Regions from separate parts of the Homo sapiens genome. Here regions 2 and 3 are each linked to region 1. Evidence: fine-mapped expression QTL. A gene starts in region 1. Each other region holds a variant in brackets. All regions are shown on one strand. Distances are between the middles of the regions.

Region 1 (8,172 bases):
TGCAGCATGGCACTGAGGTGAGGCCCCTCGACAGACCGCCGCTCAGTGCCTTCTGGGACTGTGGCGGGGAGTTCCGCCAGCCCTGGGGGCTCTAGGAGGTGGCCACGGCCAGCGTGACTCTGCCCGGGGTCGGGAGGATGGACCGGGTGTGTGGGGCACAGAATCCTCGACACCTCCCCACAAGGCAGTCTCTGCCTCCACATCCGTTTTCTGGTTATAGCCTCACAGCTCCACACCCTGGAATTGAGGCACCCTGTCCGTTAGGGTGGCCTGTCTGCTGGAGTATTTTAACGAGTTATTTGCTGGCTGGAGCCTGGGCTCACTTTAGGAATGGGAATGGAGTTGGCCTTTTTCTTGGGCCTGAGCCTGAGTGTGGCTTTCTAGGACAGCCTGGGCAGCAGCCCCTCTGCTCCCACCCGCCCCGCTAGAGCCAAGCGTTGTCTGAGCTGTGCTGGAGGCAGTCAGGCTGTCCTGGTCCTCCCTGGAAAGTGTTGCCAGCCCACGTGAACCCTAACTCCTTGTTTGGAGAAGGCAGACGTGAGCACTTGTGTGAGGCACAGACATGGGGAGCCTGGCTCAGTTCCTCATCTGTGGGCTGAGGCTGGTGGGGTCCATGCTCCTCAGGAGGTGGGGCTCCTTTGAGGAACACACCTGAAAGAGCCTTGCCTTCCGGTGCAGGGCCTGTGCCCTCTGGCCCGCCAGTTGGGGTTGGTGCTGCCAGGGCCAGGTCTGCAGGGGCCAGGCGAGAAGCAGGCGAGGTCCGGGGAGTAGCGTGGGAGGACCCCTGCCTGACGTGCCCTGTGGTCCCCCCAGGAGCAGCAGGAGGAGGTGAGGAAGCGCTGTGAGAGTGCAGAGCCTCGGCATGGGGAGCTGTGGTGCGCCGTGTCCAAGGACATCGCCAACTGGCAGAAGAAGATCGGGGACATCCTTAGGCTGGTGGCCGGCCGCATCAAGAACACCTTCTGATTGAGCGGTTGCCATGGCCGGTCTCCGTGGGGCAGGGTTGGGCCGCATGTGGAAGGGCTCTGAGCTGTGTCCTCCTTCATTAAAAGTTTTTATGTCTCGTGTCAGAACAGGCAGCCTGCTGGTTTTCTCTGGGGCCCTTCTCTGGCTCCTGCTTCTGCTGCCCCAGTCTGGCCTGTCCTGGCCTGTCCCATGCCGTCCTGGGGTGGCTGTGATCGCCCTTGCTTGGACAGAAGCCTCTTGCAGACAGCCGGTGTCTCACAGAGGAGGCACTGTGGAGGTGCCCGGGTTCCCCAAGACTGTGGAGAAGGTGGTAGGGGTGCAGATGTTCTGGCCAAAAGCCCTGTGAGGACAGCTGGAGACAGTGGGGACCAAGCTGCATGCAGGACGCAGGTGCTCGCAGGAGCCTGGCAGCCGCCTGCAAGGGTCTTGGTCAGGGGACAGCTGGGGCCTCCCTGGGGTCTGAGTGCAAACAGGAGAACCCAGCTCTGCGCAGGGCCTCTCCACACAGCCTCCCGGGCCCCTCAGGCATGTGCTGAGTGACAGTGTCACCAGTAAGAGGCGTTCTTTCTTTTGGAGGTGAGTTCATTTTTTTATTTTTGAGACAGTCTCGCTCTGTCGCCCAGGCTGGAGTGCAGTGGCACGATCTCGGCTCACTGCAACCTCTGCCTCCTGGGTTCAAGCAATTCTCCTGTCTCAGCCTCCCGAGTAGCTGGGACTACAGGCGCCCGCTGCCAAACTCCTGACCTCAGGTGATCCATCTGCCTCAGCTTCCCAAAGTGCTGGGATTACAGGCGTGAGCCACCGCACCCGGCCGTGAGTTTATCTTTGCTAATTTATCATTCGCAGTTTAACCCTAAAGCCCTTGTAATGGTTCTCATCTCCAGGTTGAACAGTGATGGTTCTCATCTCTAGGTTGAACGTTGATCACCCGAGAGACTTGGCTTCTCTTCAGCCTTAGCTGTGTAAGGATAAAGGACGTCCTCAGGCCTGGGATCATGTGTGTGCATTCAGTTGGGAGCCAGCTGGTTCTTGTGTAGGCCGGGGCTAGAGACATCTGGCTGGAGGTCATGGCTGGCCCAGAGGGTGTGGGTGGACAGTCGTTGAGGCCAGCGGGCGGGGAGGAGGGCGCTGTCATGTGGGCTGAGGAGGCTGCTGGAGAGCAGCTGTCCCTGGATGTTCCTTGTGAGAGGGGAGCCCTGGAGGGTCCCGGCCTGTCTTGTGGTACCGATGGCAGGGCCTGTGGTGGTGGTCAGTCACTGACCCACAGCTCTGCCCACCTGCACATGGGGGCCTGTGCTAGGCCTTGTGGTCTGCCTGCCCTGCTCCTGACGAGTGAGAATGGCTGGGGTGGGAGATCCCTGCCTGCACGTGGGGCGGTCCTGGTAGACCAGAATGTGGGTGTGGGTCCCCCTTCCCTGTGGTTCTGGGGACCTTGAGGACATGGTCAATCCCGGGCAAGGGACCTGCCACCCCTGTATGGGGTCAGGAACTGCTGGTTGGTCTCTGCTGGGCAGGCAACCTGGGGTCCAGCTCAAATCGTTGGAATGTGGAAGTCCTTCCTCTCGCCCCGTCCTGAGGAGCAGCTGCAGGAGCTTCATGAGTGTTTTCACTGGAACTTGTGGAGGAGTTTCCTTTGATCCCTCATGGAGAGACGGAAGCATGAGGGAGCCCTCAACATTTATTCTGAAGATGAAGAGAGTCCTGCAGCTTTTTGGAGTTTGTGAAGTCAGCCCGGCCCTGTACAGATGTGGAAACCGAGGCCCAGGAAGTTTGTGAGCCAGCCCGGCCCTGTACAGGTGTGGAAACCGAGGCCCAGGAAGTTTGTGAGCCAGCCCGGCCCTGTACAGATGTGGAAACCGAGGCCCAGGAAGTTTGTGAGCCAGCCTGGCCCTGTACAGATGTGGAAACCGAGGCGTAGGAAGGAAGCCCTTCTCTGACCTCAGAGCTGAAATGGCCAGTGCTGGGTGGGCATTGAGGGGTCACACAGAAAAGAATGTTTCAGGCCATGTTCAGGGGATACTTCCTGCAGGGCCCTTGGAAAGTTCCGGAGCGCTTACATTGTCCATGTGTGAGTGTCTCCTCTTTCTTGCCTGTGTGGGGTTTTCTCAAATGCTTTGAGTTGGCCAAACCACAGTTGTGCGCCACTTAACAGTGCGGATACATTCTGAGAAAAACCTCGTTAGGTGATGTCGTCTTGCAAACATTAAAGAGTGCATTTACACAAGGCTGGCAGGCACGGCCTCCTGCACCCCCAGGCTGTGTGCCCGGGTGCCAGAGCCTGGGGCTCCTGGGCTGCAGACCTGCACAGCCTGTCACAGCATTTAATCACATCCAAACACGGAAAAGGCAAAAACGTAAAGATGCAGTGTTACAATCCTAGGGGACTCCTGTCACCTGTGTGGTCTGTTCTTGACTATTGTGAGTCACTGACTTTTCCCCCTGGGAAACTACCTTAACTTGTCTTCAACTGAAATTTTTTCAGCCTGCAAAGATGAGTTGTGCCTCAGAGGTTGCTCGTGTTCTGAGGTGCCTCTTCACCACTGCCTGTCAGGCTGCTAACCAGAGTGCCCCAGACCACAGCAGAAGCGACAGCAGCCAAGGATCGGGGGAGCCCACCCTGCTCCTGGGTATCTTTACGGCAGGCAGCAGAGTAACAGCCTCAGACTTACCTCTTCAGCCAGAGACCCCTCAGCCCAGGAGGAGTGAGGCCGGGCCAGCAGCGGGGGCCCGGGAAGCCCCATGTCTTGGGACCTGCTGGGGCAGGGCCCCCTGGATGTCAGGCTGCAGGTCCGGCAGCTGGGGAGGGGATGAGGGCCTCCCACCAGCTCTGCCCATCAGCCAGATCCCTGGGAGAGGCAGCACTTGCTGGCCACAGAGTCGGCCCCAGTCTCACCTGGCTCCCCTCCCCCACCAGCTGGGCCCTGCACTGCCCCAGCCCACGCGGCGCCTCACCCCTCCTTGACAGAACAGTATCTCTGGGACGGACAAGTTAATCCAAGACCCACAGTAGCCCTGGATCCCCTGGGAGAGGTGGCTGCCCAGCTCCAGGGCCAGGTTAATTGAAGTGATAGGGAGTGGAGAGAGGGAGGGGGCAGGGCTGGGATTGCGTGGCCTTTCCTTCCCTCTCCTGCTCCCTCCCTCAGCTTGGAGGAGCCAACTTCAAAAGCCTCCGCCTGGCCTGCCCCTCTGCAGTCCTCCAGGCAGCCTGTCCAGGGAAGCGGTTGGCTGGTGTTGGACCTGGTGCGGCAGTGCACACCCTGCCCAAGGACCCCAGGATCATGTGCGTGGCCTGCTGGCGGGAGTGAGGGAGGGCAAGACCCTGAAAGGCCCATGGTGAGCAGCTGTGGGCCTCCTCTAGGGAGGGGGCTTACTTGGGTGGAGGGGCTGGGGGTACACACAGCTCAGGAGACACTGCTTGTTCCCCTGAGCCCCACCAGGAAATCTCCGGTTGGCTCTGGTCACTGCGTCCCTGTGGGTGGCACTGGGTGCATGTGCCCTGGCTTCTGGCAGTTGGGGGAGGGGGGCTCCTGGGTGCCGGGCAACCCTGTTCTAAGCTGGGCTGAGGCTTGAGCCTGGAAGTGGTACTAACAGGCCAGTTGGGACTCCCAGGGCAGCCAGTCTGCCCCACCTGGGTGGGACACAGCAGGTGCTGGACATCCTTGCAGCTCCAGCTGGCCTGCTCAGGAGTCAGGCTCTGGTTCTCGCTATGACCTCTGACCCAGAGCAGGCAGAGGGAATGACGTGGCAATTCTGAGCCCACCAAGTTGGCTGTGGCGTGTGTGGTTGGGGGGGTCAGGTTTCAGGAAGGGGCCACAGCAAGCCATCTGCTCTTCCAGCCATTGCTGCTTTGTGCTCTGAGCAGGAGCTGCCACCGCCCACCAGGCCCCCAGCTCTATGCAAGGGTTGGGGTGCTGCTTGTTCAGGCTCCCCTGACAGGGCTAGGAAGCCGAGTCGAGTCCTCTTATCTTGGTTGGGTTCGCATGATTAATTTCCAGCCCTAGATCTGCTGTCTGACTCCATCCTGGGGGCCCAGGGGAAGGGTTGGGGCTGGCCCCTTTTGGGTGGCTGGGAACCTGGGGGCCGTCAGCTGTCTCCTTGATGTTTGGGCTTTATCCCTGCGGGCGCAGGCCCTCCATTTTGGGTCGGGGGAGGCCTGTGGCACAGGCTGCCCGGAGGGATGGCGTGGGGCGGCTGGTACAGGCAGAGGGGCCTTTTGCGACTGTTGGTTGGGGCTGGATGTGGTGGCTCCTTCCTCCTCTATAGCTTCTGGGTGTCCCCCTAGCTTTCCCCTTCCAATAGGGTGTGGCTTGGAGCTCTGAGCCCCTGCCCCAGTTGGGTTGGGGGTACAAGGAGTCCCCAGTTCCCACGTCTCTGTGAGCTAACCCAGAGGGCGCCAGTATGGGAGGTGTGGAGTTGAATGGGCATGGCCATGAGTGAGACAGGCTGTACTGGGACAACTTCCTACTGTACCCCCAAGAGCCTGCAGACCAGCCCCACTAGAGCTGTACGGGGCTGGTGGGGGGCCCTGCTCTGTGCGGTCCTGAGGGTGCTCCACCCCTTGCTGGCCCCACTCCCACGTGGACCACAGAGCCAGGCTCTCCTGACTCTGGGCCTGCCCCCTCTATCTCCTGATGGGTTCTTCAGGACTCAGTGACATCGCCTCCCAGCCGACATCACTCACCCCTTTCACATCTTTGCAGGGAGCATAGAACTGTCTGGTTTGCAGACCTATCTCTTGTGTCTCCTGATTTATCCCGCCAGGCCTGTGCCTACAGCCTTTCTTGATTGGTGACACGTCCATTTCATTCGCTCAGAGATCCCGTGGGGTGGGGCAGGGGGTGGGGCTTCTACGGAAACAAAGTGCAGGTGGGCTGGCTGCTCCCTGTGCTGGGAACACCCCCCAGGCCTAACCCCAACCTGCTGTCTCCTCCAGGTACCCCCTAAGCCTGCACTCTGGGCGCTCCTGCTGGCGCTGCTGGGGACCGCGCCAAGCCGCGCCTATTCCCCGGCCTGCAGCGTCCCCGACGTGCTCCGCCACTATCGCGCCATCATCTTCGAGGATCTGCAGGCCGCCGTGAAGTGGGGCGGGGCGGGGGCCGAAAAGACCAGGCCAGGCTCCAGACACTTTCATTTCATACAGAAAAACCTGACTAGACCCGGGAGCTCGGGACGGCGGGGACGGCCTCGGGCCTCCTGTGGCGCCCAGAAGGTATGGAGGAGGCGCCCCTACCCAAGCTCGCCGGCCTGCTCCTCTCTCAGTTTCCCCCCACCCCCACCCCGCCTTCCTCCCTTCCCTCCCCAGGAGCACAGTATCCTCCTGTCCATCTCGTCCCTGGGTCGGACCCTGCGCGGGGCGGTGGCCGGGGGCCGCCGCGGGGCCCTGGAGAGAGCTGCTTGGACCGTGGCTGTGCGCACCGAGGCGGTGATGCGGCGCCACTGCAGGACGCTGCGCCAGGTGTGCGTCCCTGAGTGCACCCAGAGCCAGACCTCCCTTAACCCCCACAGGGCCGCCGCGCGTCCCGGGGCTCCACGGCCCTAGGCTGAAGTCGGGCTGGGTCGCGTCTCCCTTCCCGGGCCGGGCCGGGCGCGGGGGCCGTGCGCATTCGCTGACCGCCCTGTCCCCGACAGCGGAGCCGGCGGCCCAAGATGCGCCCTGCCCGGCGTCGCGGCGGCCGAAGGCAGCTCCTGCTGCGCGCCCTGGACGCCGTCGCCACCTGCTGGGAGAAGCTCTTCGCGCTGCGCGCCCCGGCCTCCAGGGACTCCTAGCGCGGCCCGTCCTGGCCCTGCGCGGGGAGGAGAACCAGCGGGGCCGCGGCAGAGCCTGGAGACGCGCCTCGTTCTGTAGACTTGTTGGTGACCTCGGCCCCTCGCTCGACGCAGCCCGCGCTCCCCGGAGGGCCCAGGACTTGGAGAAGGGAGCGCGCCTGGCCGCCGCTGGGTCACGGAGGAGGCCCGCCCTCCACGCGCCGAAGGCCTCAATAAACGGAGCTGGCGCTGCGGGTCCGGCACTCCCTTCGCCTGCCTCTCTGTGGGCCTAGGACCGCCCCGGGATCTGCGCCTCGGTGGCGGGGGGCGGTGGAGGGGGAATGCGGAGACCCGCACTTCCTGTGGCACCTGGACGGGGCGGAGCCGCCGCTCCCAGCCTCGGGCAGCAGAGGGCGGACGCGGGACGCTGGGCGCGCTCCGGCTCTGTCAGCGGCTCCCGGCTGGGCGGAGGGCAGAGCGGGGGACTCCTGGGGCCCCTAAAACGTCACGTATCCGTCCTGCTCCACTTTGGACCGGGGCCGGGGGTGGAAATTGAGGGGAGGGGAAGGCTGGACTTGGTGAATTCGGAGCAAAACAACCGGATAAAGGAAACGGGCCCGAAGGGAAGCGGGAGCTGCGGGCCTTGGCTGTGAGCTTGGCCAGGCTATTTCCTGCTGCCTCCGGAGGGGTGACCACGGCCTGGGCTCAGAGACTGCCCAGCCCCCTCTGCAGGACTGGCCAGGCTGGGGCCCGCTTTCTGGCCCCTGGAACCCTCCATTTGCTGGGGGACTGTCCCCTGGTTCCCCCATCTGATGCGCAGGTCTGGGAGTCTGTCACCCCCCTCCCCCAATCTCGGCCCATGGAGGAGCAGGGGAGGTAAAGTACCTGACACCTGTTACCCTCCCCTTCCCGGAAAGGCCGCGAGCAGGCTGTGCCTCTGGCATTCTGTGGGATCAGGGGCAGCAGCAGAAGAAAGAAGTAACCTCCCAAGCTGACCCTGACCCAGCCCCACACTCTGTGTTAATGTATTTAGTCTGTGCAACGGGAGCTACTGTCTCTGTTTTATAGATGGGGAAACTGAAGCACGAGGAGGCTGAGACTTGCCCCAAATCACAGCCAGCAATGTAAGAGCTGGCCTCAGACCCAGGCCCAGGGCATGGGATCTGCCACATGTCCCCTGCCTGGAGGCTGGGGGCCAAGCTTCCTGGACTTCAGAGCCTTGGATTCCCCTGCAGAGTTAGCACTTCTGACAGAGTCCCTGGCCATGCTCTGAGCACAAACACCTAGCAAGCATTCCCAGCCCTAGTTCTGCATTGCCTGCTCCGTGGGGGCCAGTGGGGGCAAGTGTGGGAGGGATGAGGGGGAGATGCAGGGTGCAGGAGCCCCAGCTGGAGCCAAAGCACTTGAGGGGGGTGCTTGGACTTATCCCGAGGCAGCGGAAGGTCTTTGGTGAAAGAGGGA
Region 2 (8,172 bases), 49 kb before region 1:
AGACGGAATTTCGCTCTTGTCGGAAGAGATGTTCTTGCAGGTGTTAGGACCACTGCCTTGGCATTTCCTATTGGCCAGTCTTTTTTTTTTGAGATGGAATTTCGCTCTTGTCGGAAGAGATGTTCTTGCAGGTGTTAGGACCACTGCCTTGGCATTTCCTATTGGCCAGTCTTTTTTTTTTTTTTTTTTTGAGACGGACTTTCGCTCTTGTTGGCCAGGCTGGAGTGCAGTGGTGTGATCTCAGCTCACTGTGACCTCTGCCTCCCCATTTCAAGCGATTCTCCTGCCTCAGTCTCCAAGTAACTGGGATTACAGGCATGCGCCACCATGCCTGGCTAATTTTGTATTTTTAGTAGAGACAGGGTTTCTCCATGTTGGTCAGGCTGGTCTCGAACTCCTGACTTCAGGTTGTCCGCACGCTTCGGCTTCCCAAAGTGTTGGGATTACAGGCGTGAGCCACTGCGCCTGGCTGCCAGTCTTTAATGATAAAAACTTAAAGTGGAATTGGTGATAGTATTTGCTTTTTTTAGCTTTAGTGATTGCCCTCTAAACAGACATCTAAAGAAAAACTTCAGCTGACTGAATACCGATTAACTGTCTTCTAACAGATGACATTTTTCCTCTGAGGAAAATTTTTAAAAATAATTTTAGTTTTGAGGCCAGGTGCGGTAGCTCACACCTATAATCCTGGCACTTTTGGAGGCCGAGGTGGGCGGATCATGAGGCCAGGATATCGAGACCATCCTGTTTAACATGGTGAAACCCCGTCTCTACTAAAACTACACAAAAATTAGCCGGGCATGGTGGCATGTGCCTGTAGTCCCAGCTACTCGGGAGGCTGAGGCAGAAGAATGCTGTGAACCCGGGAGGCGGAGGTTGCGGTGAGCCAAGATTGCGCCACTGCACTCCAGCCTTGGCGAGAGTGCGAGACTCTGTCTCAGAAAAAAAAAAAAAATTAGTTTTGAAATAATTTTAAATTTGCAGGAATTTGCAAAAATAGTGCCCCCCCAAAAAAAAGTTTCTGCATGTCTTTCACCAAGCTTCTCCCGATGTTACATGACCTTAGTGCAGTTATTGAAACGAAGGAGTTAACATTGACACAGTACTATTAACTAATTTGTCAGTCGTATTTGCATTTCATGTTTTTCCATGAATGTCCGCTTTCTGGCTTAGGCTTAGTCCAGGATCCCCCATTGCATTTCGTCATGTCTCCTTGGTCCCTTCCAATTGGGGGTCTCCTCTGTCTTCCATGCCCTTGACGCTTGAAGAGTAGTCACCAGTTATATGGTAGACTGTCCCTTGATTTGGCTTCGTTGGCTGAAGAAAATAATTTAGCAAGTATTTCACAAGTAGAGATCTCCGTTTCGCTGGTGGGGATGGTGTTGAAGGAAAAGCTGACCTCTACACGTGTTGTTTGCTTCTCAGTTTAATGGCTATGCTGGGAGCCTCTTCTCAAGTGGACCCTACGAGAAAGATGATGAGGAAGCAGATGCTATCTATGCAGCCCTGGATAAAAGGATGGATGAAAGAAGAAAAGAAAGACGGTAAAAGAAATTGTTGCCTTTCACAATATTTATCCAAGTTTAAAAAAAAGTTTTGTGGCCAGGCGCAGTGGCTCACGTGTGTAATCCTAGCACTTTGAGAGGCTGAGGTAGGACGATAGCTAGAGCCCAGGGGTTTGAGACCAGTGTGGGCAACGTAGGGAGACTTAATCTCTACAAATAATTTAAAAATTAGCCAGATGGTACACACCTGTAGTCCCAGCTACTTGGGTGGCTGAGGTGGAAGGACCGTTTAAGCCCAGGAGGTAGAAACTGCAGTGAGCCATGATCATTCCAGCCTGGTTGGCATAGTGAGACCCTGTCTCAAAAAAAAAAAAAAGTTTTGTTTTGAATTGTTTTATATTTGGAGAAAAGTTGCAATAGAGTATGTGTGTCTGCTTAGCTTTTAGGCCACCTGAGGGTCTTGGTCTGTCGTAGCCATGCCTGGATAAGCACTGGGCTGTTACAGAACAGCCTTAGGGCCTGGGGGCTGCAGTGGAGAGCTTAAGAACTCTTAAGTTTTTCCAGAAATCAGCAGAATTTTGTGGATTACTTTTACGATACATCAGGGTTACCATCTTTGAAATGAAAAGGGCCTACTGACTTGATTATTATATGTTGAGTAATTTGCAAATGAATTAAAGATGTTAAATGACACATACAAGCTACCAAGATTGAACCATGAAGAAATCCCAAACCTGAACAGACCAATAAAAGGTAATGAGATCAAAGCTGTAACAGAAAGTGTCCTAGCAGAGAACATCTCAGGATCTGATTGCTTCATTGCTGAATTTTACCAAATATTTGAAGAAGAACTAATACCAATTCTACTCAGACTATTCTGAAAAATAGAGGAGGGAATACTTCCAAACTTATTCTACAGAACCAGTATTACCCTGATACCAAAACCAGACAAAGACACACTGAAAAAAGAAAATGTTAGGTCAGTATCCCTGATGAACACTGATGCAGAAATCAGCAGAATACTAGCAAACCATATTCAACAACACATTAGAAAGATGGTTCATCGGCTGGGCGCAGTGGATCACGCCTGTAATTCTAGCACTTTGGGAGGCCGAGGTGGGCGGATGATGGGTCATCTGAGGTCAGGAGTTCAAGACCAGTCTGGCCAACCTAGTGAAACCCAGTCTCTACTAAAAATACAAAAATTAGCCGGGCATGGTGGGTGGTGTACGCCTATAATCCCAGCTACTTGGGAGGCTGAGGCAAGAGAATCGCTTGAACTCGGGAGGTGGAGGTTGCAGTGAGCCGAGGTCACAACACTGCACTCTAGCCTGGGAGACAAGAGCAAGACTCCATCTCAAAAAAAAAAAAAAAAAAAGATCGTTCATCATGACCAAGTGGCATTTTGCCCAGGGGATACAAGTGCAAGGGTGGTTCAACATATGCAAATTAATCAGTGTTATACATCATATCAACAGAATGAAGGACAAAAACCATATGATCTTTTTTTTTTTTTTTTTGAGACGGAGTCTCGCTCTGTTGCCCAGGCTGGAGTGCAGTGGCGCAATCTCAGCTCACTGCAACCTCCACCTCCTGGGTTCAAGTGATTCTCCTGCCTCAGCCTCCTGAGTAGCTGGGACTACAGTTGCCCGCCACCACGCCTGGCTAATTTTTTGTATTTTTAGTAGAGACGGGATTTCACTGTGTTAGCCAGGATGGTCTTGATCTCCTGACCTCATGATCCACCTGCCTC[G/A]GCCTCCCAAAGTGCTGGGATTACAGGCGTGAGCCACTGCGCCCGGCCTAATCATTTTAATTGATTCTGAAAATGCATTTGATAAGATTCAACATTCCTTGATGATAAAAACTCTCAAAAAACTGCATATAGAAGAAACATACCTCAGGCTGGGTGTGGTGGCTCACGTCTGTAATCCCAGCACTTTGGGAGGCTGAGGCGGGAGGACTGCTTGATCTCAGGAGTTTGAGACCAGCCTAGGCAAGAGGGTAATACCTTTTCTTTACAAAAAAATACAAAAATTAGCCAGGCTTCGTGGCACACACCTGTAGTCCTAGCTACTCAGGAGGCTGAGATGGGAGAATTACTTGAGCCCAGGAGGCAGAGGTTGCAGTGAGCTGAGATCATACCACCACACTTCAGCCTGGGCCACAGAGCGAGACCCTGTCTCAAAAAAAAAAAAAAAAAAAAGGGGGGGGGAGCATAACACAATAAAAGCTATATACAGCTGGATGGGGTGGTTCACGCCTGTAATCACAGCCCTTTGGGAGGCCCAGGCAGGCAGATCATTTGAGGTCAGGAGTTTGAGACCATCCTGACCAACATGGTAAAACCCTGTCTCTACTAAAAATCCAAAGATTAGTTGGGTGTGGTGGCTCAGGCCTATAATTTCAGCTACTCAGGAGGTGGAGGTTACAGTGAGCTGAGATTGTGCCACTGCACTCCAGCCTGGGCAACACAATGAGACTGTGTCGCAAAGAAAAAAAAAAGCCACATATGGTAGGCCCACAGCTCGTATCATACTGAATGGGGAAAAACTGGAACGCAACAAGGATGCCCACTTTCACCACTGTGATTCAACATTGTACTGGAAGTCCTAGCTAGAGCAGTCGGACCAGAGAAATAAATAAAAGGGCATCCAGATTGGAAAAGAAGAAGTTAAATTATCCTTGTTTGCAGATGATATGATCTTATATTTAGAAAACCCTAAAGACTCTACCAAAACACTATTGGAACTGACAAATTGATTAAAGTTGCAGGCTATGCCCCCAGGTGTGGTGGCTCACACCTGTAATCCCAGCACTTTGGGAGGCTGAGGGTGGGTGGATCACCTGAGGTCAGGAGTTTGAGACCAGCCTGGCCAACAAAGAGAAACCCTGTCACTATTAAGAATACAAAAATGGCCGGGCACGGTGGCTCACGCCTGTAATCCCAGCACTTTGGGAGGCCGAGGCAGGTGGATGACTGGAGGTCAGGAGTTCGAGACCAGCCTGACCAACGTGGTGAAACCCTGTCTCTACTAAAAAAATTACAAAAGTTGCCAGGCGCTGGGACTCACGCCTGTAATCCCAGCACCTTGGGAGAGTGAGGTGGGTGGATCACTTGAGGTCAGGAGTTTGAGACCAGGCTGACCAACATAGTGAAACCCTGTCTCTACTAAAAATACAAAAATTAGCTGGGTGTAGTGGCACACGTCTGTAATCCCAGCTACTCAGGAGGCTGAGGCAAGAGAATTGCTTGAACCTAGGAGGCAAATGTTGTAGTGAGCTGAGATTGCACCACTGCACTCCAGCCTGAGTGACGGGGCAAGACTCTGTCTCAAAAAAAAAAAAAACCAAAAAACAAAAATTAGCCGGGTGTGGGGGTGCACGCCTGTAGTCCCAGCTAGTTGGGAGGCTGAGGCAGGAGAATCGCTTGAACCCAGGAGGTCGAGGTTGCAGTGAGCTGAGATTGCACCACTGCACTCCAGCCTGGGTAACAGAGTGAGACTCCATCTTAAAATAAAAGAAAATATCCATACTACCCAAAGTAATTTACAGATTCAATGCAATCCGTATCAAAATACTGGGGACATTATTAACAGATAGTGAAAAAATAGCCAGGTGCAGTGGCTCATGCCTGTAATCCCAACACTTTGGGAGGCTGAGGCAGGTGGATCACTTGAGGTCAGCAGTTCGAGACCAGCCTGGCTAAACCCCATCTCTACTAAAAATACAAAAATTAGTTGGGCATGGTGACAGGTGCCTGTAATCCCAGCTACTTGGGAGGCTGAGGCAGGAGAATCACTTGAACCTGGAAGGCAGAGGTTGCAGTCAGCTGAGATCGTGCCATTGCACTCCGGCCTGGGCAACAGAGTGAGACTCCGTCTCAAAAAAAAAAAAAGAAAAAGAAAAAATAATTCTAAAATGTACATGGAGCCAAAAAAGACCCAGAATAGGCAAAGCTATCCTGAGCAAAAGGAACAAAACTGGGGGAACACTTGACTTCAAATTATACTACAGAGCTGTAGTAACAAAAACAGCATAGTACTGGCAGAAAAACAGACACATAGACCAATGGAACAGAATGGACCCAGAAACAAATAGGTACCTCTACAGTGAACTCATTCTTGACAAATGTACCAGGAATATTTATTGGGGAAAAGACAATCTCTTCAATAAACGGTGCTGGGAAAACTGGATATCTATATACAGAAGAATGAAACTAGACCCCTCTCTGTCACCACATACAAAAATCAAATTAAAAGACTTTAAGACCTCAAGCTGAAACTACTAGAAGAAAACATTGGAGAAACTCTACAGGACATTGGACTAGGCAAAGATTTCTTGAGTAATACCCCACAAGCACAGGCAACGAACGGAAGCCAGGTGTGGTGGCTCGCTCCCGTGAGCCAAGAGTGCGCTACTGCACTCCAGCCTGGGCCACAGAGACTGTCTCAAAAAGGAAAAAAATAAAAAGTTCTCATTATAGAATATTAGGAAAATAAGAGTAAGTATGGGTAAAAGCATAACATTTATTCATAAGTCTAGAAAGTAACAGTTAACATTTTGGCTCATTTCCTCTTTCTGTTGCTTTTTTTTATCTTGGCTCACTGCAACCTCTGCCTCCCGGGTTCAAGCAATTCTCCTGCCTCAGCCTCCCAAGTAGCTGGGATTACAGGTGCCTGCCACCACGCCTGGCTAGTTTTTGTATTTTAGTAGAGACGGGGTTTCACCATGTTGGCCAGGATGGTCTCAAACTCCTGGCCTTGTGCTCCATCCACCTCGGCCTCCCAAAGTGCTGGGATTACAGACGTGAGCCACTGCGCCCAGCTCTGTTGCTTTTTATACATGTAATCATAACTTCCTGTGATGTATGTAGAATGTTTTATTTTTTGAAGATAATTTTAGAATAGTAAAATATAGTTCTTCTGGAATTTTATTTATTTTTTATTTTTTTGAGTCTCCCAGGCTCAAGTGATTCTTCTGCCTCAGCCTCCCAAGTAGCCGGGATTATAGGCACGCGCCACCACACCTGGCTAATTTTTGTGTTTTTAGTAGAGACAGGGTTTTACCATGTTGGCCAGGCCGGTCTTGAACTCCTGACCCCAAGTGATCCACCCGCCTCAGCCTCCCAAAGTGTTGGAATTACAGGTATGAGCCACCGTGCCCAGTCTTGCCACACACTTTAAACAACCAGATCTTACGTGATGTAAACTTGCTGCCTCGAGGACAGCACCAGGCCATCAGGGGTCTGCCCTCAAGACTCAAGTGGCCTCCCACCAGGCCCCACCTCAAACATTGGGAATTATAATTCAGCATGAGATTTCATGGGGACACAGATGTAAACCATATCCTTTGGCCTCCCAGAGTGCTGGGATTACAGACATAAGTCAATGTGCCTGGCCTGGACATCTTTTTAGAAGCTCGTTATTAAATCATTGTGCATAAATTTTATACCTATAGTAATTAAACGTGAATGGCATTGCATTTCACTTTTTTTTTTTTTTGGATACAGGATCTTACTCTGTCACCCAGGGTGGAGCGCGGTGGCTTGATTATAGCTCCCTGTAACCTTCAATTCCTGGCTCAAGCGATTCTCCTGCTTCAGCCTCCCAGGTAGCTGGGATTACAAGCACGTGCTACCACACCCAGCTAATTTTTCTTTTTTCTTTTTTTTTTTTTGAGATGGAGTCTCACTCTATTGCCCAGGCTGGAGTGCAATGGCGCAACCTCGGCTTACTGCAACCTCCGCCTCCAGGGTTCAAGTGATTCTCCTGCCTCAGCCTCCCAAGTGGCTGGGATTACAGGCATGCACCGCCACGCCCGGCTGATTTTTGTAGAGATGGGTATTTTTAGTAGAGACGGGGTTTCACCAATGTTAGCCAGGCTGGTCTTGAACTCCTGCCCTTGTGATCTGCCTGCCTTGGCCTCCCAAGGTGCTGGGATTACAGGCTTGAGCCACCACGCCAGGCTCACACCCAGCTAATTTTTGTCTATGTTGCCCAGGCTGGTCTTGAACTCCTGGCCTCAAGTGATCCACCTGCCTCCCCTAACCTTGGCCTCCCAAAGTGCTAGGATTACAGGCATGAGTTACTACACTCAGCCCTACATTTTAAAAATTGATTGGAACCTCCAGGGTTAATGCATTTTAAAAAACATCAGGCTGGGTGCAGTGGCTTACATGTGTAATCCTAGTACCTTGGGAGGCCAAGGCAGGAGGACCACTTGAGTCTAGGAGTTCGAGACCAGCCTGGGCAACATGGTGAAACCCTGTCTCTACAAAAACAAAATTAAAATTAGCCAGTTGCACATGCCCGTAGTTCCAGCTACATTCCCAAGGCTGAGGCAGGAGCATCGCTTGAGCCTAGGAATTAGAGGCTACAGTGAGCTATGCTTATGCCACTGTGCTCCAGCCTGGGCAACAGACCAAGGCCGTGTCTCTAAAACAAAAACAAAACAAAAAACAGCAGGTGACACGGACCCATGAAGAAAGCCATTAAATTAAATGTTTTTAAAAAGTAGTGTACTTGGCCGAGCACGGTGGCTCACACCTATAATCCCAGCACTTTGGGAGGCCGAGGCGGGCAGATCATGAGGTCAGGAGATCGAGACCATCCTGGCCAACATGGTGAAACCCCGTCTCTACTAACAATACAAAAATTAGCTGGGTGTG
Region 3 (8,172 bases), 24 kb after region 1:
TTGCATTTTCTGAGTGAGGTGGGACCTTGGGAGGTTCTGAGTGGAGTGTGATCTGCCTCAGCTCAGCTGCTACGTGAAGACGGGGCTGTGCGGGGCAGGAGGGACGGGCAGTCCCCTGCCAGAAGGCAGGGGGCTCTGCTTCTGCCGCGGCGGGAGCCTGGCCAAGGTTTGCTCTCAGACCCCATCTGGCTGCCCCAGGAGTCTCCCTGGTCTCTCTCTGGGAGGCCTGGGCCCCTGGGAGGTGCCGCCTCAGGGAACCCTGGTTTTGCTGCCCTGTGAGTCAGGTCTCTAGGCTTCACCCATAGCCCCGACCCCACGGCTGCCTGGGGCCTCTGGGGAAGGGGAGGGTGGAGTGGCCGCCAGGCTGGCGGGCTGGCAGGGCTGCATTTCTGGGAATTGTGTGGGGGAAGTGCATTGTTAGAGCAAGCCTGGAGCAGGCCGCCAGGGCCGCCACTGGCCTCTGGGGATGCCTCTTGCCTCCCCCAGCGTTGCTTCTGTGGGAGGGAGCTGGGACTGGGCCAAGGCTATGGGCTGGGCTGGGGACTTTCCGAGAGACGCTGCCCTGGGCAGGTGGCTCTTCCCATTCTACAGACTGGGCGACTGAGGTCCAGAGAGCCGGGTGCTGCAGTGGCATAGCCAGGAGCAGTGGGCCCAGTCCCCATCCCCTGCCCTCCTCTGCTGGCGCATGGGACAGGGGAGCACTTGCTGGACCTAAGCCCCGTCGCTGCCCTGCTGGTGGGGGCATCCAAGGGAGGCCTGGGTGGGGTCCACTGGGGTCACAGCTCGGCAGAGCCCCCAAGGTGGGCTGGAGGGTCTGATGGAAAGGGGCGCAGAGACGGCTCCTAGGTGCTTGGGCTGTGGGAGGGCTGCCCATGGGGTGGCAGGGGGTGGGGGCTCCTGGGGCTGCAGGATCCCCAGCCCCCGCTCTGTGGTTGCAGGAAGCAAGGGGGGCTCCGTGTGAGTTTGGCAGCGGGAGCCTTCCCACCACGGCGCTGCCTCAGCCAGAGGGGAAGCATGGATAGCGGCCACTGGGGTCATGGCCGGCTTTGGGCGGGCAGGGGGCAGGGGACACAAATAGAAAAATAAATGGCCTGAGTTTCCGACGTTTCCTGGACTCAGGATGGGGGAGGGGCAGGCCTTTGGGCCAAAGGTGCGGCTGGCCCTGTGGGGTGGACCAGGGGTTTCTCCCCAGACGCCTGTTGGGGCCAGGGCTGCCCCCTCAGACCTCCAAGGTGGGTCACATCTCCCCCTTAGAGCCCTCAGGACAGGGCCCCGTTGCCCACAGAGAATTCCTAAAGGCCTATCCATATGTCCCTGTCCATAAAGACGTCGAGTGTGGAGGACACCCTGGAGGAGGAGATGGAACCCTCCTGTTTGCTGGGGCTCGGCCCCCGGTGAGGCTGGCTGCAGGTGACCACAGAGACCTAGCCTGGTGTCGTGCGGCCGCTGGGTCCGTGAAGGGGAGTGAGGCACTCCTCACCCTGTGGCAGCTCCTAGTCAGGAGGCCTCTCCCCTCCACCTGCACGTCATGTGGCTGTGGCTCCCAGGACCAGCGCCTGGAGCGGGTGAGTGAACGTCCCTCTCCTCCGTGGGCACTGCCTCCGCTGTGAGCCACCCTTCAGGCTACGTGCATTTCCGCCTGTTCTCAGGGTTTAACCGAAACCGAACATTAACCGTAGCCCTAACGCGGCTGAGGGATCCAGGCCTTGCCTCTGGGCCGGGTGAGAGACAGACACTCGCCAACCAGTCCGCAGTGGCTCCCCGTGTGTGCGAGGCTCCCGCCTGCGTGTGTGCGTGTGCATGTGTGCCTGCGCACAGGGGAGGGAAAGTTCTTCAGCTGCCGAGGGCGGGAGTAGGGGCTGGAGCAGCACCCTGCGGCGAGGCCCCACAGGAGAATCGATGGTTCTGATGCTGTCAGCCTCTGGGTGCAAATTCTGAGGGCCCGGGAGCGTCTGGCGGCCCTGAGCAGCTTGCTGGGGAAGCTCCGTGGAGGAGGAAGTCCGGAGGTCGGTAAGCTCCAGGAGGGGTCTGCTGGGGGGCGAGAATGCTCTGAGCAAGGTCCCAGAAGTCCAGAGCTCCTGAGGGACCCGGGACCAGGGGCACTGGGGAGTTTCAGGGTTGGTCGCCGCCACAGCCCTCACAAACGAGGCCACTCTCTAGGACTGGCCACCTTCTCACCTCGGCCACTTCACAGTCCTGGGGGGCAGCTGTGGCTCTTGCTGGGAACCACCTGGACCTCCCTGGGGCTTGGGGGTGGGGTGGTGGTGAAGTGAGGCCCACCCGTCCGTGGCTCACTCCTGCCACCTAGAGGCCACTGTTCCTCACAGGCTCTGGGGCCAGTCACCTGCCTCTGCCCGGGGGCGGGACCATCCCACCGGATTGCAGGTTCCCTGATCACCAGGATGGGCCTACACCTCTCCGCCTGCAGTAGTTGCTTCCACGCAGGACTAGAGCATGTCAGGGTTCGGGGCTCCTGTCATAGCGGAGTGGCTGCGGCCCGCAGGTCAGAGGCACCCGACCTCTTCTGCTAACCCCCTTCCCTGCCTGTCCCGTCCGCTCCTTTCTCTCCATCACCTGCCCCTGCCATGAACCAGGCCACCAGTGACCCCATCCACACCTGTCCGACCAGGCTCCCCACGTGCCCTAATGCAGCCCCGTAGGCTGGGCCCACGGCTGACACCCCTTCCTGAGGGATCCCCGACCTGCCAGCCGTTGTCCTTAAGACGCCACAGCATCTTGACCTCCCCGTCTGCAGCCTCTGTGGGCCTCCACTGGGACCCACTGAGACATGTCAGGCTCCTCACGAGCTCTGTCTTGTGTGGCCATGCCCAGGGCCCCAGGACGTAGAAGACCACCTGGCATCTCATGGAGGAGGAAACAGGGCCCAGAGTGGGACCTCCACTCAGGCTCAGCAAGGGCCGAGTCCCAGTTCCTGGAGTCCTAGTTGAGGCCCCTCCTACACAGAGCACAAGGTGGAATTCACGGGGTCATAAAGGCAGCCAGTTCTACCAACACACAGTTATGCAAATATTTTCTTAAAGTGTGATATCAAAACCCAAGTGCTTCTTTACCAATCTGCTGAACAAGATGTGACTCACTGAACAGCCTCTGCAGTCCCAGCAGCAGCGAGTGTGGGGGTGCGAGGCAGTTCCCATCTGTGCCGGGTCAGCCACGGGCCCAGCTGACCAGATTTGGTTCATGGCCTCGTTCATAACTGAACGAACGACACCTTTCTGCTAGAGGTCGGTATAAAGGAGATGATGGGCCGGGCA[C/T]GGTGGCTCACACCTGTAATCCCAGCACTTTGGGAGGCCGAGGCGGGTGGATCACCTGAGGTCAGGAGTTTGAGACTAGCCTCACCAATATGATGTAACCTCGTCTCTACTAAAAATACAAACATATTAGCCGGGTGTGGTGGCGCATGCCTGTAATCCCAGCTACTTGGGAGGCTGAGACAAGAGAATTGCTTGAACCTGGGATGCGGAGGTTGCAGTGAGCCAAGATCGTGCCACTGCACTCCAGCCTGGGCAACAAGAGTGAAACTCTGTCTCAAAAAAAAAAAAAAAAAAAAAAGGAGATGATGGTTTCTTCCCACCAGTTTATTTTCTGTCAGGGGTTTGGTCTCTGGGTCTCTGACCCCCTGGATTGTTGAGACGCCTCGCACTGTTCCCTCCCATCTTGCCCGACCGCCCCCCACCAGCTCCCAGGCCCAGTATGTCTCTGTCCCACCCCATCGTCTCTATAGGCCCTGTCCTGCAGTGGGTTCTGTCCCTCCCTGCAGCTTGGTAAGGTTGTTGAGGCTTCAATACACACTCCAGACCACATCCCTCTCCCTCCCAACTCTGGGACACTCTCTGCACCTCTGAAAAGAAACTCCCAGCCCTTCTTGTGCCTCTCCCTTCCTCTGGGCACCCCTTGTTCCTTATCCATCCTGGCTGGCCTGTGGCCTGTACTTCTGATCTGCACACAGGTATCACAGAGGACAGAGACCCCAGGGCCCCAGCCCCTGGTGGGGGCGGGGAGTGCAAGGGGGCAGTCGTCTTTGTTCTCGACCAGCTCCCAGCTCCCTAGGTAATGCTTTAAGAGTTACCGTGCTAGGGGATCTTTGTGGCTGAAAACATTCAGATGAACCAGATATTTAAAAGCATCCCTCATGCAAAGTCCCTCCACTGGTTGGGCCGGCCTGGGGAGGGTCAAGGCTGGGTCTCTAGTCTGGTTTTCCGGGGGCGTCTGTGTGCACTCCTTCCCCAGAACCTTGCGCTTGTCCATCCCAGGGAGAAATCAGGTGGGGAGCGGCCTCACTGCTGGCTCCTTGATAGTGACTTGCTCCAGAGGTCCGTGCTGATACCCCAGACCCCGCCCCACCAACACTTCAACTGGGACTGCGGCGTATGCACAACTGCACAGCCTCCTCTGGCAGCTCCTTGATGCTTCTGGGACGTTGACCCTCTCTCCTTTGCACCTCCACTCTTAGGAACTTGCAGCTCTCTGGGGTTAGTTCTCCTCTGTGCTGTCTGGGCTGCACCTCCTGCCCAGGAGGGGCCTCTCTGTGCTGCAGCCCTTACCAGCATCTCAGGATCTGCAGTCCTGATACTTGGAGGTCTCCCCCCCACCCCCAGCTTGAGGGCTGGCTTCCTTTCGGTGGTCTTCAAATCAACTCACACTCGGCCGTTGGAGAAGCCTATGTGTCTGGCCAGGCAGGCTCCATGGATGTGGCCAGTGTCTTTGTGGACGGTGGGAACCAGCTTTGAAACCCTGGCCGCCCGGACCTCCGAAGCCAAACTTTCTGGGGTTCCTGCACAAGGGCAGTTCCAGTGTGGCTTCTACAGGACCCTGACCAGCTCCTTGGTCTGGCTGTCAGCCATTGAGACAGTGGTTGAAGGCTGGGTGGCTCTAGCCTCCCCTCGTGCCTCTGATGAGGCTGGACCCTTCAAGTCTTCATATATGCCCAAACCATGGGATTCTGACCACGAGGACTTGCTTGGATGGTCTAGGCTGGAAGCTATGTCCCCAGCTCACTGTGAGGGGCAGAATCAGTCAGTATGGAAACCGTGTTCATCTATTAATAATAATAATAATATAATATCGCGGGGCCTCTGTCTTAGAAAGGCTTTGCTCCTCACAAGGAATTCTATGCTTTTTCCCTATGATTGAGCTTTTTTTTTTTGCGACGAGTCTCACTCTGTTGCCAGGCTGGAGTGCAGTGGCATGATCTCGGCTCACTGCCAGCTCCGCCTCCCGGATTCAAGCGATTCTCCTGCCTCAGCCTCCTGAGTAGTTGGGACTACAGGCGCATGCCGCCATGCCCGGCTAATTTTTTTTTGTTTTTTTGTATTTTAGTAGAGACGGGGTTTCACCCTGTTGCCCAGGCTGGTCTCAAACTCCTGAGCTCAGGCAGTCCACCTCCCAAAGTGCTAGGATTACAAGCATGAGCCACCGCGCCCAGCCTGAGTCTTTTTTTTTTTTTTTTTTTTTTTGGAGACAGTCTCACTCTGTCACCCAGGCTGGAGTGCAGTGGCACAATCTGGGCTCACTGCAACCTCCGCCTCCTGGGTTCAAGTGATTCTCCTGCCTCAGCCTCACAAGTAGCTGGGATTACAGGCATGTGCCACCACGCCCGGCTAATTTTTTTTTTGTTGTTGTTTGTTTTTGAGATGGAGTCTTGCTCTGTTGCCCAGGCTGGAGTGCAGTGGCATGATCGCCGCTCACTGCAAGCTCCGCCTCCTGGGTTCATGCCATTCTTCTGCCTCAGCCTGCGGAGTAGCTGGGACTACAGGCGTCCGCCACCACGCCCGGCTAATTTTTTGTATTTTTAGTAGAGATGGGGTTTCACCGTGTTAGCCAGTATGGTCTCGATCTCCTGACCTCGTGATCCGTCTGCCTTGGCCTCCCAAAGTGCTGGGATTACAGGCATGAGCCACCATGCCCGGTCTAATTTTTGTATTTCTAGCAGAGACAGGGTTTCACCATGTTGGCCAGGCTGGTCTGGAACTCCTGACCTCAGATAATCCGCCCACCTCAGCCTCCCAAAGTGGTGGGATTACAGGGGTGAGCTACTGTGCCCAACCAAGATGAGTCTCTCTCTCTCTTTTTTTTTCTTTTGAGACGGAGTCTCGCTGTTGTTGGCCAGGGCTGGAGTGCAATGGTGCTATCTTGGCTCACTGCAACCTCCGCCTTCCGGGTTCCAGCAATTCTCCTGCCTTAGCCTCCCAAGTAGCTGAGATTACAGGTGCCCGGCACCACACCTGGCTAGTTTTTGTATTCTTTGTAGAGACGGGGTTTCACCATATTGGCCAGGCTGGTCTCGAACTCCTGACCTCAGGTGATCCACCCGCCTGGGCCTCCCAAAGCGCTGGGATTACAGGCATGAGCCACTATTGCCCGGCTAAGATGAGTCTCTTAACTGACCATATTTTCCTTTTCATTTTGGCTGCGGGGAAGCTCAGTTATATGTGATTAGTGCCACAGACAGCCCAAGAAATGCTCAGCCCATTCCACCTGCCACCTGGCCTCATAGTTCGTTGGCCTGAACTTGAATGACTACAGGCTCCTTGATCCACACCCTCCCCCAGGATTGTGCCCTCTCCAGGAAACCACCCAGCATCTGCATTACTGGGGAGCTGCCAGGCAGTGGTGGGGATGCTGGCCCTGCACCTGTCCCCGTCCTCAACCCTCCCTAGGCCTGGGCCATCTCTCTGGCTGCCTGCAGTCTGGCCCTACCTAGGGACCTCCAACAACAATGTCAATGAACACTAATTGTCATGCTCCATCCCCTCTCTGTTCTCAGGCATGTGATGTGAATCAGCTGACATCATCTTGACGGGAGCCCTGTGAGGCGGACACTTAACTCCAGTTTCACAGGTGGGGAGACTGAGACACAGTGGTCAACGTGCAGAGCCCAGAATCTGCTCCCTGGTAGCTGACTTTGCAGGCAGGGGCCTTGCCCACGCAGCCTCGGCAGAGGCCCCCGCACTTCGCGAACCCCAGCAATGGCCCCTTCCAGACGCCACGTCCAGCTACCGCGCGCTCACACCTGCAGGGCCCCACAAGAGGCCTCCCAGTGTGCGCGGGCCTCTTGAAGAAGTAACTCTACTCAGAAGCCCGAATGACCCAAACTGGGCTCTGGGAGGCTGGGGACGGCCTTCTAGGCCAAGTGGGGCGCGCGCAGGGCTCAGCGGGGCCCAAGAGAAGGGCTGAGGGCACTGGGTCCTGAGCCACCCACCGAAGGACGCCGCGGGACAGCAAGGCCCGAAGCAGGAGGAGAGAAGGGAGCAGATTCCTGGGCCTCCTGGGGCCCGGTCGCTCCGGGATGTCTGAGCTCTGGGAGGGGCGTGCCCGGGGCGCCTCCCTCGCGGGGTATTGTGGGATCACGAGTCACTGGCGACGGTGGGTCAGGACTACACTTCCCAGGAGGCTGTGCGCGCCGCGTGGCGCCTGGGAGTTGTGGTCCAGAGCGCGGGCGCGGCGGGCGCGGCAGGCGGGCGCGTGGACTACGCATCCTAGGATGCCGCGCGCGGCCGCGGGGCCGAGGGTTTGAACCGGGGGTCTGTCGTCCGCGGCGGGGCTGCGTCGGCTGCGGCGGGTGTGGGAGGTGGCGACGGCCGGGGCCGGGGTCCTGCCCGGCTGCGGAGGCGGGCGCGACGGGCGCGGGGGTCGCTGCTCCTGAGGCGATGATGGGCAAGGAAGAGGAGATTGCGCGGATCGCCCGGAGGCTGGACAAGATGGTGACCAAGAAGAGCGCGGTGAGGGGCGCGGGCCGCCAGGACCCCGGGAACCCCGCCCCGCCGAGACCCCGTCGAGCCCGCCGACCCCCGTTAGGGCCGGAAGACGACCTGAGGGGCAGGACGAGACCCCTCCCCGGCAGAGACTAACCGGGACGCAGGGGAGACCCCCACCCGTGGCCGAGACCCCTGCCCCGGGCCAGCCCTGCCGTTCACTCCCGCAACCCCGGCAGAGGCCGCGATCAGGCCTGGACCTTGTCCCGGGAGAGCCACCCGCTCTGGACTCAGACCCCTCCCTCGCCCGCAGTCACAGGCTCCGCACCCTTCCCTGTCCCTTAACTCCAGACCCCCAGCCTGGCCCGTCGACTCCTTCCTTGGCCCTGTCCCGCCTCTCGGAGCCCCCGGGGTGTTCGGGCCTCCTCTGCGGGCCGCGCCAGCCCCTTGCCTTCCTCCA

The links. PIP is the estimated chance that this variant, and not a neighbour inherited with it, causes the effect.
Region 2: its variant is fine-mapped to the expression of C20orf204 in aorta (GTEx, PIP above 0.99).
Region 3: its variant is fine-mapped to the expression of C20orf204 in whole blood (TOPMed, PIP above 0.99).

The regions. Positions count from the first base shown.
Region 1 is chr20:64,032,028-64,040,199 of GRCh38, forward strand. C20orf204 (chromosome 20 open reading frame 204) reads left to right here and starts at 4,155. Exons shown (of 4, transcript NM_001387010.1): 1 at 4,155-4,299; 2 at 5,900-6,175; 3 at 6,269-6,421; 4 at 6,595-6,974. The coding sequence starts at 4,297. The coding sequence ends at 6,732. PRPF6 (pre-mRNA processing factor 6) reads left to right here. Exons shown (of 21, transcript NM_012469.4): 20 at 1-17; 21 at 814-1,073. The coding sequence ends at 966. RefSeq lists enhancers at 3,318-3,547, 4,435-5,028, 4,498-4,597, 5,029-5,622 and silencers at 6,268-6,337, 6,438-6,757, 6,948-7,227.
Region 2 is chr20:63,983,482-63,991,653 of GRCh38, forward strand. PRPF6 (pre-mRNA processing factor 6) reads left to right here. Exons shown (of 21, transcript NM_012469.4): 3 at 1,426-1,544. Among named protein-coding and RNA genes, the nearest start is that of PRPF6, 6.4 kb to the left of the region's middle. The variant G/A (reference allele first, on the strand shown) is at 3,259.
Region 3 is chr20:64,055,646-64,063,817 of GRCh38, forward strand. It overlaps TCEA2 (transcription elongation factor A2), which reads left to right and starts at 7,553. Exons shown (of 10, transcript NM_003195.6): 1 at 7,553-7,739. The coding sequence starts at 7,668. RefSeq lists enhancers at 55-744, 1,435-2,124, 2,125-2,812, 6,934-7,063, 7,074-7,123 and 1 more and a silencer at 7,454-7,813. The variant C/T (reference allele first, on the strand shown) is at 3,273.